2 separate regions of the Homo sapiens genome follow, and region 2 is linked to region 1. The links come from fine-mapping of genetic effects on gene expression. Tissue or cell type: whole blood. Region 1 holds a variant in brackets; the other region holds the start of a gene. All regions are shown on one strand. Distances are from middle to middle.

Region 1 (8,265 bases):
TACAGGGGTGAACCACTGCACCCGGCCTCATTTTTTAATAAGCATGTTTGTACGTATACATACATATTTTAGGCAAAAATGTTTGCTTTATTTCCTGTCTTATTCCCTCATCATATAACATAAGATGTACTGACCTTATATATAGTATTTGAGTATTGTTAATGCTACATCATAGTATTTAAGTTATAGACTATCAGAAGAGTAAACATCATTCAAAGACTTCACCTCCTCTTCCGGGAGGTAAACACCCTGGGATTAGTGTGTTTTCGGTTGTGCGCAGAATGTTAATATCATGTTAGGCAGGATTATGACCTTGTTATTTATTTGGAAGTTAAGTATGGTTTAAGATGTTTATGGGTGCCAAGTTGACAAGGGGTAAACTTGTGATGGTTAATTTTTTTTTTTTTTAATCGAGACAGGGTCTCACTCTGTCACCCAGGCTAGAGTCCAGTGGTGTGATCATGGCTCACTGCAACCTCGAACTCCTCAGGCTCAGGTGATCCTCCCACCTTAGCCTCCTGAGTAGCTAGGACTATAGGCATGCACCACCATGCCTGGCTAATTTTTGTATTTATTTGTAGAGGTGGGGTTTCACCATGTTGCCCAGGATGGTCTCAAATTCCTTTCCTCAAGTGATCCACTCACTTCTGCCTCCCTAAGCACAGAAATTACAGGAGTGAGCCCCTATACCTGGCCTGATGGTTAACTTTATTTGTTCACTTGATTGGGCTAAGGGATGCCTAGTTAGCTGGCAAAACATTATTTCTGGGTGTATCTGTGAAGGGGTTTCTGAAGGAGAGTAGTGTTTGAGTCAGTAGACTGAATAAAGCAGGTGTCCTTCACCAACGTGGACAGGCATTATCCAATCCTTTGAGTGCCTTAATAGAACCAAAAGATGGAGGAAGGATGAATTTGCCGTCTCTGGTTGAGCCAGGACATGCATCTTCTCCTGTCTTTTGACATCAGCACTCCTAGTTCTCAGGCCATCAAACTTGGACCTAGACTTACAACATTGGTTCCCCAGTTTTCCAACCTTCGAACTTGGACTGGAACCACACCACCAGCTTTCACGAGCTTCCAGCTTGCAGATGGCAGATCCTGGGACTTCTCAGCCTCCATAATTGCACAAGCCAATCCATCAAAACAAATCCTCATTTCATACATACATACATAATACATATATATATTCTATTTATATATATAATATATCTATTATTAGATTATTAATAATATATCTATTATTTATATATTATATATAAAATAATATATTATTAGATTATTAATAATATATATTATAGATATATAATAATATATATGTATATATATATATATTCTGTTTCTGTTTCTCTGGAGAACCCTATCATTTGATCATTGATTGGCCCTTCACATTTAAGACTAAGGCAATGGAAAACTATATGGAACTCTGCATTCTTGGGAGAAGTTTATCAGTTAATAGGTGTTACTTTAGAGTGAGTGAGGAGGGAGTCAACTAGTATGCTGGGGAACTGGGGGAGGGCAGGGGTCCCTAGAAGCCAAATGTAAGGTTTTTTTCCTTTGGGATTCTTTCCTCTCCCTAGAGAAGACCCTTTAGCTTTCTGCCTGAGGAGCTGATGCCTAGTTGTCAGGCTTTCTTCTTGCCAAGATAGGGGTGCTAACTCCTGGACACAGACTCTCAGTTAATCCTTTTTATCAGTCCCACATCTCGCTACAGCCTCAGGCTACACCTGGGTTTCTCCATCCAGAGCCCCTTGAGGGTCTCCAGTGCCAGTTTTCTTTATAATTGGCCATGTCCCCCCGGTTCTTTTTTTTATTTTTCCCAACAGCGATGCAATTATTGTGCAGACACAATGATCTTCTTACCTGATCCTGCGTATACATTGGCCTAAATGTAAGATAGCTTGCCAGCATCAGCAATAAGACTGGGAGTGGGGCTTAAATTCAAGTTCTCTTAAGGATAGATCTTGATTCCCTGTTCTAAGCTGACCAACTTAATCTGCAAAGAATTTGCAACATGTAAATATTTTAGGATTATAGCCATCTGTATACACACTGAAACTGAAAGTAGTTCTGCTGCCATTAACTTAGTCTAAAAGGGCCACCTAAGAATGCCAAACGTTATTTTGTTCGAATGCCGTGGTTATTTTAGTTTAAAAGCATTTCTTTCAAAGCTGCTTCTCTCTTCACAACAGTAGAGCTCTGGCAGTGAATTAAGCGGTCGAGGATTCAGCGAAACTGTGGCTAATTTCTGGTTCCAATCTGGAATTTAAAACAAATTAAGGATTTATTTAAAGACTACTCACTCCTAATTTTTAACACACTGTCCTTTTAGCAGTTGTGCACAGTAACAAAATAACTTTTGGGGTTTAAGACAAATGAATGCATTTAAAATGTGGGAAAAAGGACTCAGTCAAAAGGTTGTTTCTTTGGTTCAGTCTCTGATTAAGAGGCATATTATTGAATTATGCCAAAATGTAAATAAAATGAAATAAATTACATAAATTTGCATGTCGACATCTCATTCTGTACCCCCAAACCTTTTTAGTCGTACATTATCAGTGCATTATTTTGTATCAAATTGTACTCATTGCCATCCCTAAATTATTTTTTTCTCTTTTTTCAGAGGTTTCTTTGTTTTTTCAAATTTTATTGACTATAAACCTTTGGATTAGAAAAGTTCAATGAACTCCAAACAGAATAAACAAAGTTCAAAACCATACAAAATCAATCACTATGTTATTTAGGAATAGATACGTATATGGTAAAAACAGTCAATAGCAAAGGCAAGATTAACACAAATTCAGAATAGAGAGTACGTCTGGGGGGAAGGATGGGGGGACTCAAAGGCTTTAAGTATATTAGGGAATTATTTTTCACAACTGACCTAAGGAATAAATAAGTATTTTATTATTACTCTTTAAATTGAATATATACAAAATATTTTTTGCAGGTATGATAGATATCACAATAAATAGAAAATAGGCCAGGCGTGGTGGCTCAAGCCTGTAATCCCAGCACTTTGGGAGGCCGAGGCGGGTGGATCATTTGAGGTCAGGAGTTCGAGACCAACCTGGGCAACATGGTGAAACCCCATCTCTACTAAAAATACACAAAATTAGCCGGGCGTGGTGGCAGGTGCCTGTAATCCCAGCTACTCGGTAAGGTGAGGCAGGAGAATTGCATGAACCCGGGAGGCGGAGGTTGCAGTGAGCCAAGATCGCACCATTGCACTCCAGCCTGGGCAACAAGAGTGAAACTTCGTCTCAAAAATAAAAAAAAAAAAAGAGAAAAGCAAAGAAATCAATGAAGTTCATCCATTCTTTTGTGTTACTTATAATAACACAAACTAGAAACCTGGGAGTCACCCTTGACCACTCTCTCACCAACCAAATCCAATTAATTTTCACTTCCTACTTCTCTTCACTCCCCCATCACACCCTGGTCCAGGCCACCTGGACTTCACCTGAAACACTGATATCCTTTCCTCTTCCTTACACTCCTGCTGTAATCCAACCTCCACACAACAGCCAAAGAAAACACTTTACACCTTATCTTTCTTCAACTTGAATCTATTTCACCATCCCTTTTGCTATCAGAAGCAACAGAGTGACAAGTACATTGCCCAGGGCCACACAGCCAGGAAATGGCAGAGGCAGAACTCAAAATCTACTGGTCTTACTTGAGATTTCACATGTCT[A/C]CACCCACTCTCCTACCTTGGGTGATACTGCCGTTCCTAAATTCATACCCATTGGTGTTCCCTTGTATTTTATAACCTCTAATCTATAATCATTAACAATTTTGCTTATCTAAAAATAAGGGTTCAAAGAGAGCTTCACTTTAATACAATTATTGCTCAAGGAACCAAAGGCTAGTGTTTCAAAAGCATTGTAACAAAACTTTTTTTTTTTTTTTCAGACGGAGTCGTACTCTGTCGGCCAGGCTGGAGCGCAGTGGCGCCATCTCGGCTCACTGCAACCTCCACCTCCCATGTTCAAGTGATTCTCCTGCCTCAGCCAAGTAGCTGGGATTACAGGTGCCCGCCACCACCCCTGGCTAATTTTTGTATTTTAGTAGAGATGGGGTTTTGCCATGTTGGCCAGGCTAGTCTCGAACTCCTGACCCCAAGTGATCCGCCCACCTTGGCCTCCCAAAGTGCGGGATTACAGGTGTGAGCCACTGCGCCCGGCTGCATTGTAACAAAACTTTATTATATTATTAGGTGAATATTAGAGTTTATTACATTAATATTCAGAGTAATTCTCAGTTGTACACTGATATTGCCATCTCAAAAAGATTAATTTGCCCAAGTATACATAGCTTATAAGAGGTGCAGTCCACATCTGACACAGAACAGACTCCAAAATCATTAATCTTTCACTGTTCTAGTCTGCATTCCTTAGTGCTTCAACAGTATCTCAAGAAATAAACATTTCTGGATATTAAGAATGGATAACATTTCACTAACCCAAGGAGTATGACTAGAAATGAGATCTTTGAGGATTTTTAGATTTAATCGAGTGTGATCCTGTCTGTAGTCAGCAACCACATGACTTTTCAAGTTTTTTTATGGAGTCAAATAGCAATGATGGCCTTCTAATTACACTATATTCTGGAAATGTATTAAAGTAATTTAGAAGTGTGAGGAATTCCATTCAGCAACTCCTCATGATCCTTGCAGGCTGTACGATGGGGTTGAATCATACACAACTTAACCAGGTGAACTCAACAGTCAATGTTGTGAGAACAGTGGGTGTTATCAACCCTGAAACGTGCTACACAGATTGGGGATGCTATGAGAAGAAAGTGTGAAATGATTTTTTGGATTTCCTTATCATCAGACAAAATGCAGTTATTGTTCATGTGGATTTGTGGTGGTGACTCCTTTGAAAGTCATTGTTGGAAAATAAAATGAATAATTAGTTGATAACCACAGAGAAACTTTAACCACCTTGCTGAGGATTCTGTGTATTCCAAATATGTTAATGATTTAATATAATATCACTCTTTAACAATCAAGAGTTTTTGTTTGTTTGAGATGGATTTTCACTCTGTTGCCCAGGCTGGAGTGCAGTGGTGCGATCTTGGCTCACTGCAACCTCCGCCTCCTGGGGTTCAAACAATTCTCCTGCCTCAGCTTCCTGAGTAGCTGGGACTACAGGCGTGAGCTAATTTGTGTGTGTGTGTGTGTGTGTGTGTGTGTGTGTGTTTTGTAGAGATGGGGTTTCACTATGTTGGCTAAGCTGGTCTCAAACTCCTGACCTCAGGTGATCCACCCACCTCAGCCTCCCAAAGTGCTGGGATTACAGGTGTGAGCCACCGCACCTGGCCAGTCTAAGATATTTTTCAAGGATTACTTTGATCATGCATGATTTTTACCTTGTGCACCGATTTTAGAAATTAATCTCAGTGATATATGCAATTCCATTGTATTAGTATTTTACAGATATTGATTCTGGCATACATTATTCTTGATCAATAATACTAATAGTAACTAACATTTTTGAAGGCATAGTAATAGTACATACAGGCACAATGCTTACATTCTTTATATGGGTATCTCAATTCTATTAGGTAGATACTATTTTTATGCTTTTCGCAGGTGAGAATATTGAGGGTCAGAGAGCCTAAGGGCCACGCTGTTGGTAAAGGCATATATTTTATTTTGGAAAAATGAGTTATTTGAATTATTTGGCACCAGGGTGAGTAATACAAGGGTAACTTTCCTCTGAGGGGCCATCTTATCCTCCCAGGCTATGAATTCTCTGAGGACAGAGCCTTCTCCATACCCTCCACTCTGTCTTGCACATAGTCAGTGCCCAAAAAATGTTTCCTAAGGAAATCAATGAAATTATATGTGCTGAGAAATAATTTTAACTGAGGAAGAATTTCTTAAGCAATAACCATGATCTATCATGGTCTATATTTAATCAGACACCTCAGAGAACTGAACATAAATGTAAATCCTTGCTAATCTAGACATACCTTCTGCCCTGAAAATCTGATCAAACACTGGCCTAGGCTGGGCACGGTGGCTCATGCCTGTAATCCCAGCACTTTGGGGAGCCGAGGCGGGTGGATCACCTGAGGTCAGGAGTTCGAGACCATGATGGTGAAACCTTGTCTCTACTAAAAATACAAAAATTAGCCAGGCGTGGTGGTGGGTGCCTGTAATCCCAGCTACTCGGGAGGCTGAGACAGAAGAATCTCTTGAATCTGGGAGGTGGAGGTTGTGGTGAGCTGAGATCACGCCACTGCACTCCAGCCTGGGTGACAGAGTGAGACTCCATCTCAAACAAACAAACAAAAACTGGCCAAATGGTTAGGATAAACAGCCTATACTTTGATAAACAACTTAATATTCTTTCTCTTATTCTGTGAAAAACTCCCTCAAGGAGTGCTTGTCAGGCCTCTTGCAGACCAGCCCTTTGCCAGCCTATTGTTGTTTATACAATCATTGCCACCTAAGCATCTCTCAAATGTATCTAAATCTACTGCCAACACCCATCATCTGCTGCCTAAATCACTGCTTCTCAAACTTGGCTGCGCTATGGAATTATCTGGGGAGTTTTAAAAATGACTGATGCCTGGGACCCCCACTTTGCCGCCCCACACGGAGATCCTGATTTAACTGGTATTGGGTATAGCCTGGGCGTCCAGATTTTTTAAAACTCCAAGCAATGTAACCAAAATTAAGAATGTTTAACCTGGCCAGGTGTGGTGGCTCATGTCTGTAATCCCAGCACTTTGGGAGGCTGAGGTGGGCAGATTGCTTGAGCCCGGGAGTTTGAGACCAGCCTGGGCAACATAGTAAGAACCTGTCTCTACAAAAAATACAAAAAGTAGCTGGGTGTGGTGGCTCATGCCTGTAGTCCCAGCTACTCAGGGGGCTGAGGGAGGAGGATCACTTGAGCCTGGGCTGCCAAGGCTGCGGTGAGCTGAGATTGCACCACTGCATTCCAGCCTGGGCAATGGGAGTGAGACCCTGTCTCAAAAAAAGAAAAAAACTTTAACCACTGCAATTTCCTCCTGACTCTCCACATTCAATCTTCGCCCCATGCTGCTCCCCACCCTGCCCCTCCTTTTCTTCTCCACAGTTAGAGGAACATTTTCAAAATGAATTTTTTTTAATTTTTTATTTCCATAGGTTTGGGGAGAACAGATGGTGTTTGGTTACATGGTAAGCTCTTTAGTGGTGATCTGTGAGATTTTGGTACATCCATCACCCGAGCAGTGTACACTGAACCCAATTTGTAGTCTTTTATCCCTCACAAAATGAAATTGTAATCATTACTTCTGCCTTCCTTAAAACTTTTCAACAGTTTCCCATTATTCTCAGACTAGAGGCCAAACCCTGAATATGACCTGTAACGTCTTTCATACTCTGGTCTTTCTTCCCATCCCTCCACCGCACCCTGCTCCATGATCCCTCCTGATTCCTATACTCCAGCACACCCTTATTGTTTTTAGTTCCTCAAACATGTCATGCTCCTTCCTGCCACAAGGCCTTTGCACATGCTGTACTCTCTATGAACCTGTTTCCCCACTCTCTGCCCAGTTAACTTTTAGCTTATCCTTCAGCTCTTGGCTCATCATTTCCTAAGGGAAGCTTTCTCTGACTTACTATATGCTCCTATAACCCCATATAAACTCTGCCTTATAGCATTTAAGGCAGGTAGACTTTTATGGTTATTTATTTTTTTAGAGTTGGGGTCTTGCTATGTTGCCCAGGCTGGAGTGCAGTAGTATAATCATACCTCATGCAGCCCCAAACTCCTGGGCTCAAGCAGTCCTCCTGACTCAGCCTCCTGAGTAGCTTGGACCACAGGGGCCACTACACCCAGTTAATTTTTAAATTTCTTTTGTAGGAGTGGGTTCTCACTGCGTCGCCCAGGCTGGTCTCAAACTCCTGTCCTCAAGCTGTCCTCCCACCTCGGTCCCCCAAAGTGCTGGGATTACAGGCATGCACCACCACACCCATCCATGGTTATTGAGTGTAGAAATCTTGTGTCTATTTTTGCTTCATGTGGTATGGCTAAAAGCTGTCACATTGACTGGCACTTAAATAGGCCCTCAAATTATTTCCTGAAGGAATATGTGTGGGTAAGTGAAAGTGTTCTTGATATCAAATATATCACCAAGTCCAGTTGATGCCACCCCCAAAATATCGCTGGAATCCATTTATTCCTCTTTATCTTCCCTGCTGGTCCCAGCCACCATCATCTCTGGTCTAACCTATTAAATTGTTTCTCAGTGGTCTGCCTGAGAAAC
Region 2 (8,000 bases), 65 kb before region 1:
ATTCAGCACCTGTAAGATTTTTTGTTTGCCAGTTTCTTAATTGGATTACTGGCTTCAGGGTGGAGCCCCTGGAGGAACAGGGCTAGGAAAGCTTGTGTTTCTAGGGCCAAACAAGCAGCTGAAGGCAAAGACGGATTCTTAAAATTAAGGGTGCCGCTTTACACTGGATCCTGGATCCCAAGAGGACGGAAATACTTCGAGAGAAGACAGTGCAGTGCTTTTACCAACTATGCATTTCACTGCAACGCAACCCAAAGCCAATCAGTCCATTTGTAATTAGACCATCCCCCATGGGATTCTCATCTCTCTGTTGGGGGGCGGGGGGGTGTTTCCATGTCTTCCAGGTGGCCAAAGCATGCTTCTCTGATCCAAGTGTGCGAAGAGCCAAGTATGCCTCCGTAACTACTATTAGCCAACTCCTAAAGTATATTTCCTACCTAGTTGTTATACACCAAAGCTCTCTCAGAATGAGAAGTAATTTCTGATGCCCCTAAAACTCAAAACCGTCAGATAACACAATGCAAAACAGAATAGAGCCTTGGATTTTGAGAGGGATCTGTCTGCTTTTAATTCTTGGGGTTTCATGAGGAAAACAGAGCTTTTTTCCAAAACGGGGTCTGTGGTGCCTCCTGTTTTTCCCAAGGAGTCCCAGGCTACCAGAAGCTATCTCAGGGCCTCTCATGTGTACATTAAGATAGGCAAAACAAAAAAGTGGAGGAAAATAATTCAGTTGACTGAGAAGGAAAAAAAGACCTTTTTCCAGAAAAATAATCTTTTTCCAGAAAAACAAGATCCAAGAAGAGAGAAACATAAAGGCCTTTTAAATATACCTACAGCTTGTTTATCCACTTTTAATTAAGCTGACTTTTAACCATAGCGCTCTTTAAAAAAAAAAAAAAACCCTTAAAAATTTTATACCCAACTTTAGCCACGCCAAGCGGCCAATATTTTTGGCTTTTGAATTCTACCACAGGTAACTTCCCACCTGAAATTAAGTTTTAACTAAGTTTATAACCATGGACACACAGGTGTCTCAAAGAGATGGTAAGCAGTTTTTTTTTCTACAAGATGTAGAATCTCCCCCAGGGTAGTTTAGAGAAAGGAAAATTCAAGACAGGAAATCAGAAGCTATTCATGGGAGCGGGGGGACGCGGGAACCTCAATAAATGGCAAAGTTACAGAAATAAAAAACCAGAAGGGAATCATTCCAGAAGCCAGGAATAGAACCCAGACCCCCCACTGTCAAGAGGCAAAACCTTAGCTACTGAGTTACACAGTATTGAGCAGTTTCTATTGTGCTTCCCAGAAGGAGCCTACAGAAGCCAGTTTCAAGCTTGCAAAGGCTTTTAACTGCTCAAGAAAATTCTTAGGGCTAACCTAAAAATCCCCAAATTCCTGTCTTCTAGATGGTGGAAACCAAGAGAAAGTATCTCCACATGGTCACAAAGTTAAGCTCTTCAGGACACAAAACAAGACAGAGAAATTTCATACAGTATTGGCTTCAGGGACCTGTAGCAAAGTTTGTAACTGACCAGCCTGCCAAGCCGGCTTGAAAAGCAGGCTTATAGGGGTCCTAAACCCACGTTCTATCCTGTGACACCCATCTATCCACTACAGAACACAGAAAGACAAATTCTTAGCACAAAACTACACCAGATTTGCTACAGCCTAAGACTAGTCTCACAAATCCTTTTTTCCATTTATCAAACCCTTGCAGAGGAGGTAAACAGTTTACTATTTACTGAGAAAGAGAGAGAGAGACCACAAACCGGTCCGGTAAGAATTTCATACCCTCTGTGCCGGCATACCAGATTTCCGGGTTCCCTTTCTCTGCAGTTTCCAGAAGAATGGAGTGGCTTTTGATGACCCTGCTTGCTTGTGCTATAGCTGTGGGGTTCAAGCCACTTTACAAGAGAAAATCACCCTTTACTGTTTTATGGAAACATAGACGAGATTCTTAATTTGCAAGATGCTGCCCAGCGGGCTGCATGGGGAACCGAATTAACATTTTCCATCCCAGCAAAACACACATAACAAAACACACATTAGCCACCTCGTTCAGCTCCCAATATCAGCCTGGCAAAGCTCAAAAACTTTTTCTCTTTGGTCCCTGTTGTCTTTGATCCACTCCAGGTGGGGAGGGATGACCTCCGAACGGTAATTCACAATGGGGTCTCTGGGCAAGACGAAGAGCAGATAGTCACCCCGAGACAGGCCTGTTGAGCCTTCTGTAGGGCTCATCAAATGTGACCAGACAAATAAGGAGGGTTTTGAGTTAGGTCTGCTGGACTTCCATCAGCAACCTCTTCTGAGATCCCTTCCACATATACAAACGCACACAAAGACGAGAGGACAGAAGGCGTTCCCAATCAGATCCCTAACCAAGAACTCCGGGAGTATCCCTTCCAAACTATCCTCCTATTCTCCTTCTGAGAAACCTCCTTGAAATCTTCCTGATTCAGGAGAAGTCTCCCAAACCTGGACTCTTCCTACTAGTTAGAAAGAGCCAAATGAGACCCCCCCAGGAGCCGAACAGACACCCTGCAATGGGGCTACAGACACCTCACCATAGGGCTACAGAACCAGTTGGGAGAAAGGAGGCGTTGGCAGCACCTAGGATACTCACCAATCCAGACACCCTGCCCTGCAATGGGGCTACAGACAGACACCCTGTGATAGGGTTACAGTTAAGGGACGTCTCCCCGGGGCTATTTCTCCATTGCAATTAAATCCATGCACACTGGGTTGGCAGCACCCCACCAGTAGAGAGAGTACCAGAGTCAGCCCCCAGTCCAAGAGAACTGGGTGGCCGCTTGGGCAGGCTTCTGGATCCATTGCTGGAGGGGGGCCACTGAACCACGAGTAGGTAGCCACAAAGGCAATGCCAGACAAGCCCCCAAATTTGTAACCGCCCAAGGGGTTCACCTTGTCCACTGCCTAGACAGAGCCAATTCATCAAGACAGGCAAATGGCAATAGAGAAAGAGTAATTCATGTAGAGCTGGCTGTGCAGGAAACCAGAGTTTTATTATTACTCAAATCAGTCTCCCATAAATGATTTTAAAAAATTGAATGGAAATGACTAGTAAGGTGTGCTTATTCAGTATCTACTATCTGCCCAACACTACCTCGGGCATTTGACTAGAAAGAAATAGATGGCATTCTTGTTTCCAAAATGTTTGTGATCTTGTAATAAGGCCAAGATAGACAACAATTATCACATAGTATTATAATTGTTTACTAATCAATAGACCAAATAATTTGAATCCTTGAGGGCTGAATTGTATCTTTATTTCTCCTATGTTATCAGTGCCCAGGACACTTAGTTAGTTAATAGCAGGTTCTCAATGTTCCTGACTTAACTCATTGACTAGAAATAAAATACTAAAGTGTACTCTAGGGACCATTAGTGAACATACAGTATGTACAGGCGATTTGGGAGACGGTACATATAATGTGATTCCATTCCCACTTTTTTTCGAAGCACCTTTTATCAGAATTAAACATCATAGTTAATTTGTGTTGGTGTCGAAAGGGCATTAGATGAACAGTAGGTATACACCAGAATCTAGTTACAAATGTAACTGAGAGACAGTGGAATCTACAGGAAGGACATGGGCTCTGGACTTAGATTATCGAAGTACCAATTCAAGCCTCACTAGGGCAAGTTACCCAGCTTTTAAATCCTGTAAAATAAGGATAATAGAGGATCACCTACCTTATATGGTTGTGGGGATTAAAAAATAAAGAAGTGCATGACGGTATCTGCATATATGTACTATATGCGACATAGGTAATCCACTCCTCCTCTCTGAGCCTTTGTTACTACTATGTAAAATGAGGATTAGGACTTTATTTGATCTATTGATTTCAGGTCTCATGTCCTTTATCTTATTGCCTTACTTTTGAATTTTGTCTTTTTTGATCCCTGTCCCCATCTCTGTTACTTCCGGACTTTTAATTTCCAATTCTACACTTACACGTTCCGATTTTATGCTGTTTGTACTGCGAAATTCCACAGTTTGTATTTTGTACACATTCATTCCTTAATAAAGACAAATCCAGACAAACCTGCAGATGGCAGACACAGTGGCCCCAGAATACACCGCCGCAGCCCAGAGCGTTGCATGCTGGGATTTGTAGTCCGACGCTCCACACGCGCTTCCGCGCCTCTCCAGTTTGAAAGCGAGAGGTAGAGCGGGTAGGCGGGGTGCTGAAGGAGAAGCGCTCTCGAAGCCCCGCCCCTGACCTTTTCCGCTCGCGAGGTTTGCACGGGAGTGGCGCGCCAGGCCGCGGAAGGGGCGTGGCCTCGGTCCGGGGTGGCGGCCGTTGCCGCCACCAGGGCCTCTTCCTGCGGGCGGTGCTGCCGAGGCCGGCCTGCGCGGGGCAGTCATGGTACCCCCTTGAGCGGGCTGTGGCGGAGAGCGGGGCGGGGACTGGCTGGAGGGTGGCGGCCCGGCGGGGCGGGGGCGGGGCCGGCCTCTGGCTCCTTCTTCCTCTGCATGTGGCTGGCGGCCGCAGAGCAGTTCAGTTCGCTCACTCCTCGCCGGCCGCCTCTCCTTCGGGCTCTCCTCGCGTCACTGGAGCCATGGCGTTCGCCGAGACCTACCCGGCGGCATCCTCCCTGCCCAACGGCGATTGCGGCCGCCCCAGGGCGCGGCCCGGAGGAAACCGGGTGACGGTGGTGCTCGGTGCGCAGTGGGGCGACGAAGGCAAAGGGAAGGTGGTGGACCTGCTGGCGCAGGACGCCGACATCGTGTGCCGCTGCCAGGTGAGGCGACGGGGCCTCTCATGGGAAGCCGGGCCCGGGAGCTCGGGCTGCCTGGCTCCTGGTGCCCGGGAACTCGGACCCAGAACCCGGATCCACTGGCCAAAATGAGGTGTCACCTTGAGGCTCTCTCCTCCTGTCCTGAGCTGCGGCTACGTGGAGAAATGGCGGGAGGTCGGGGACCCCTGACCTGGAGCGTCGGGTGAAACTTGGGGTGGCCCTGGAGGAAGAGGTGGGCTGGCGGGGAGCCTTTGAGAGATGCGCGATGCCTGGCAGTTGCAGTTTTGCGTCTGGCGAGTGGTGCTCAGCGCCGGGACTGAGGCCGGGGTGGAGGTGGGATGCGGTCCGAGTTTGAGGAGCTACCGCCCGAGGCCTGCTCCCAACTCTTCCGACTGCGGGCGGAGACCCGGCGCGACGGCAGAACCCCCCATCACCGCCCCCCCGCCCCGCCCAGGGCGGCGGAGTGGGAGTGGATTGTTTCGAAACGTCCTGAAATCAGACTCACCGATCCCCCATCTGCAGGACCGTGGCATGCAGTGCTTTGCTTCCTCTGGTCCACTTTGTTGACATCCAAACCCACCCACCTCTGGGCTTTGGACTGTTGTTTTAGGGCCCTGAGTTTCTTGTTTTTGTTTTTGTTTTTACAGTGTGCTCCATACATGAAAGTTAAGGAGAAATTACTTTTACTAGTTGGTCCCAGAGGAAGGAATCCCTTCTCTGTTCAAAAAAAGTGAGGGAAGTAAATACATGGATGTCAAATTGAGTATTTGGAAATAAATATTTGCATTGTTAAGGTGACATCGAAAGTGAACTTTCGGAAAACGAGGTGGTAATGTACTTCTAACGGGAGACACGTGGTTTTCAGTGTAACCTTTCTTCCTATTTGTCGTTTCCTTTGACGCAGCATACAGGGTAAGGCCTTTGTAAAGGCTCTCAGATAACTCTCTCCAGTTTCAAAATTCTAAGCAGATGAGCAATAACCACTTTCAAAACAAAGCATAATGTAATATTTGAAGTTAACTGCTATCTGTTTAGGTTGCAAGAATATTTGTTTTTGAACATGCATGGCATGATATGATGGTGCCATGCTGTATATGTTCTAGTAAGTTATAGGCCCCCTTGAATACCATTTTGAGCATGCAGAAACAATGAAATCACAGGTATGTTAAAAAGCTAAATGCAAATACTGCAAATATTCTCTGATTTACCTTGTTTCGTTTTGTTTTGTTTTCATTTAGAAATCCACCCTGCCCATTCTGAAATAGCTGTTGCACTAATTGCCTCTTAGGAAACTGTCACTACCACCTCTCCCTCCTTCCCTTCCAGCCTATTATTTCTCCACCCCTCTGGCAACACACTTTGTACCTTAGCAATCTTCAGGGTGTTGCCATTAAATTCCTGCCCCGCACTTTCTTAGGAAATACTCCAGAAATCCAGCCTTTACCTACCTTTTGTCTTACATTCAGATCTGGTCATGCTGTGGGGAAGACGTATCCGAATACCGAGCTTTCTTGCTGTCGACAGCGGGAGAGAGGCTGAGGCCTGTGTGTCTCCTTCACTGACATCTTGACATCTCGTTAATATGGAAATAGCTCAGGTTGAGCTACACTATGGGTTGTAAGAAGGTTTGGAGAACACAACCATTATGGTATTTATTCTAAAGGATCCTCAATTTTAATATTCTATGGAGAAATATTAGAAGTAGTTTGTAGCTTGGAGAAGGTGTTACTAATGTTACCGAGAAAGTAGTCTTGAAGTCATGGACCAACCTGATCTGATGCCCTTGGAAAGGCTAGAGAAGTGATTGAGAAGGAACTAAGTTTGGCTTTAAAATGTTAGCTGAAGATAGTGGAGAAACAAATGAGGGGCCTTGTTGGGCAGACTTCCCTCACCTGTGTATTTTTGACTTAACTACCTTCCTTATAGAATCCTTATGTTCTTTTAGTGCTTTTTAAAAGTGTATCATTAGGATTCTTTATTAGTCTTGTTAGCAAAAAATAGATGAGTAATGAATAGATTTAAGCATTATCTCTTTTGTGATTTACCTTGGTAACTTTGTATTATTTGGTTAGCCCTAGTAAGCTGGCATCTACTTAATGAAGTTCCCCTAGGTTATAAAATTGGAATGTTGAAGTTCTTAGTGAGTGTGTATAGAGAGCTGGAAAAAATCAACAGTAAGACATTGTGAGCTTGGATTGCCTTGTTTGATGTCTTAAGTTTTGTGTGTTAGTGAAAATATGTCCTTTGTTAGAGTTTAATATATTCTGCCATATTTATGTCATGAGTTCAAATTTTATTCAGTACTGTTTCTCCAGAAGTGATGTACACATAATGTATCCGTATTTCACCAGTAGACTCATAAGGACTTTCTCCCAACATAAAATATAGTTTTAAAAAGAAAAACTGGCATTGCATTTAATGATAAATTTTAATGTATAAAATGCCTTTTTGGAAACAATAGATGCAAACCTAGTGGCGTTTTCACTCTTAACAGCGCTTAAGGCCTGTGTTGTTCAGATTCAGGATTTATGGGGAGTTATTTATAACTTGGTAGGTTCCCCAGATCCATAAATATGTAGGACTTGCATCAAAGGACAACCACTACTGCTGCCTTAATTTTAAATCAATATTTATTTTAAGAAGAAGAGAGAAGAATTAAATAGAGGCCCAACCCTGGGTACAGGTCATTCATCTAGTAAACATTGAGTATCTGCAGGGGATCACTTAGCCTGGGAGTCAAAAATCTGAAAAAGGCAGGGATTGTGCCCACAAGGAGCTCACAATCTGGGGGACAACTGCTGTGTAAGCAAAAGTGTTGAGAAGGTCGGGATGGAGAAAGGTACTAGTCTAATACGTTTCTCAAGAGGTTAAAGTATGGGACCAAGAAAGTCCCTTTCTGGCATCACAAAAGGAAGCCTAATACTGTTTTTTCCCCAGTTCTCTCAAAGTAAAATACTGTGCTTTGTTTTCTGTATTTTGCTGAGTAGAAGCTACAGAAACTTCTTAACTATAGTAGTTTATACCAGGCTTTAAGCAAAGGCTTACTTATTTATTGTTCTTGAGGAAAGTAACTTCGGTGGTCTTGGTTATAATGACACACATGAAGTTGCCTGTGATCGGGAAAGGCTAGAGCAGTGTTCCGTGTGTATTCTCTCCAAGGCTTCAAAGTCAATAAAAAGAGAAAATACTAAAGTTAGTCATAAGGGAAAGCACACCCCATCACTTGATATATG

What was found. PIP is the estimated chance that this variant, and not a neighbour inherited with it, causes the effect.
Region 2: ADSS2 starts here. The variant in region 1 is fine-mapped to the expression of ADSS2 in whole blood (TOPMed, PIP above 0.99).

The regions. Positions count from the first base shown.
Region 1 is chr1:244,382,942-244,391,206 of GRCh38, reverse strand. It overlaps SPMIP3 (sperm microtubule inner protein 3), which reads right to left. Exons shown (of 5, transcript NM_001012970.3): 5 at 1,544-2,256. The coding sequence ends at 2,138. Among named protein-coding and RNA genes, the nearest start is that of SPMIP3, 34 kb to the right of the region's middle. The variant A/C (reference allele first, on the strand shown) is at 3,695.
Region 2 is chr1:244,448,405-244,456,404 of GRCh38, reverse strand. It overlaps ADSS2 (adenylosuccinate synthase 2), which reads left to right and starts at 4,496. Exons shown (of 13, transcript NM_001126.5): 1 at 4,496-4,770. The coding sequence starts at 4,588. It also overlaps a transcript of CATSPERE not described here. RefSeq lists silencers at 4,107-4,596, 5,037-5,316.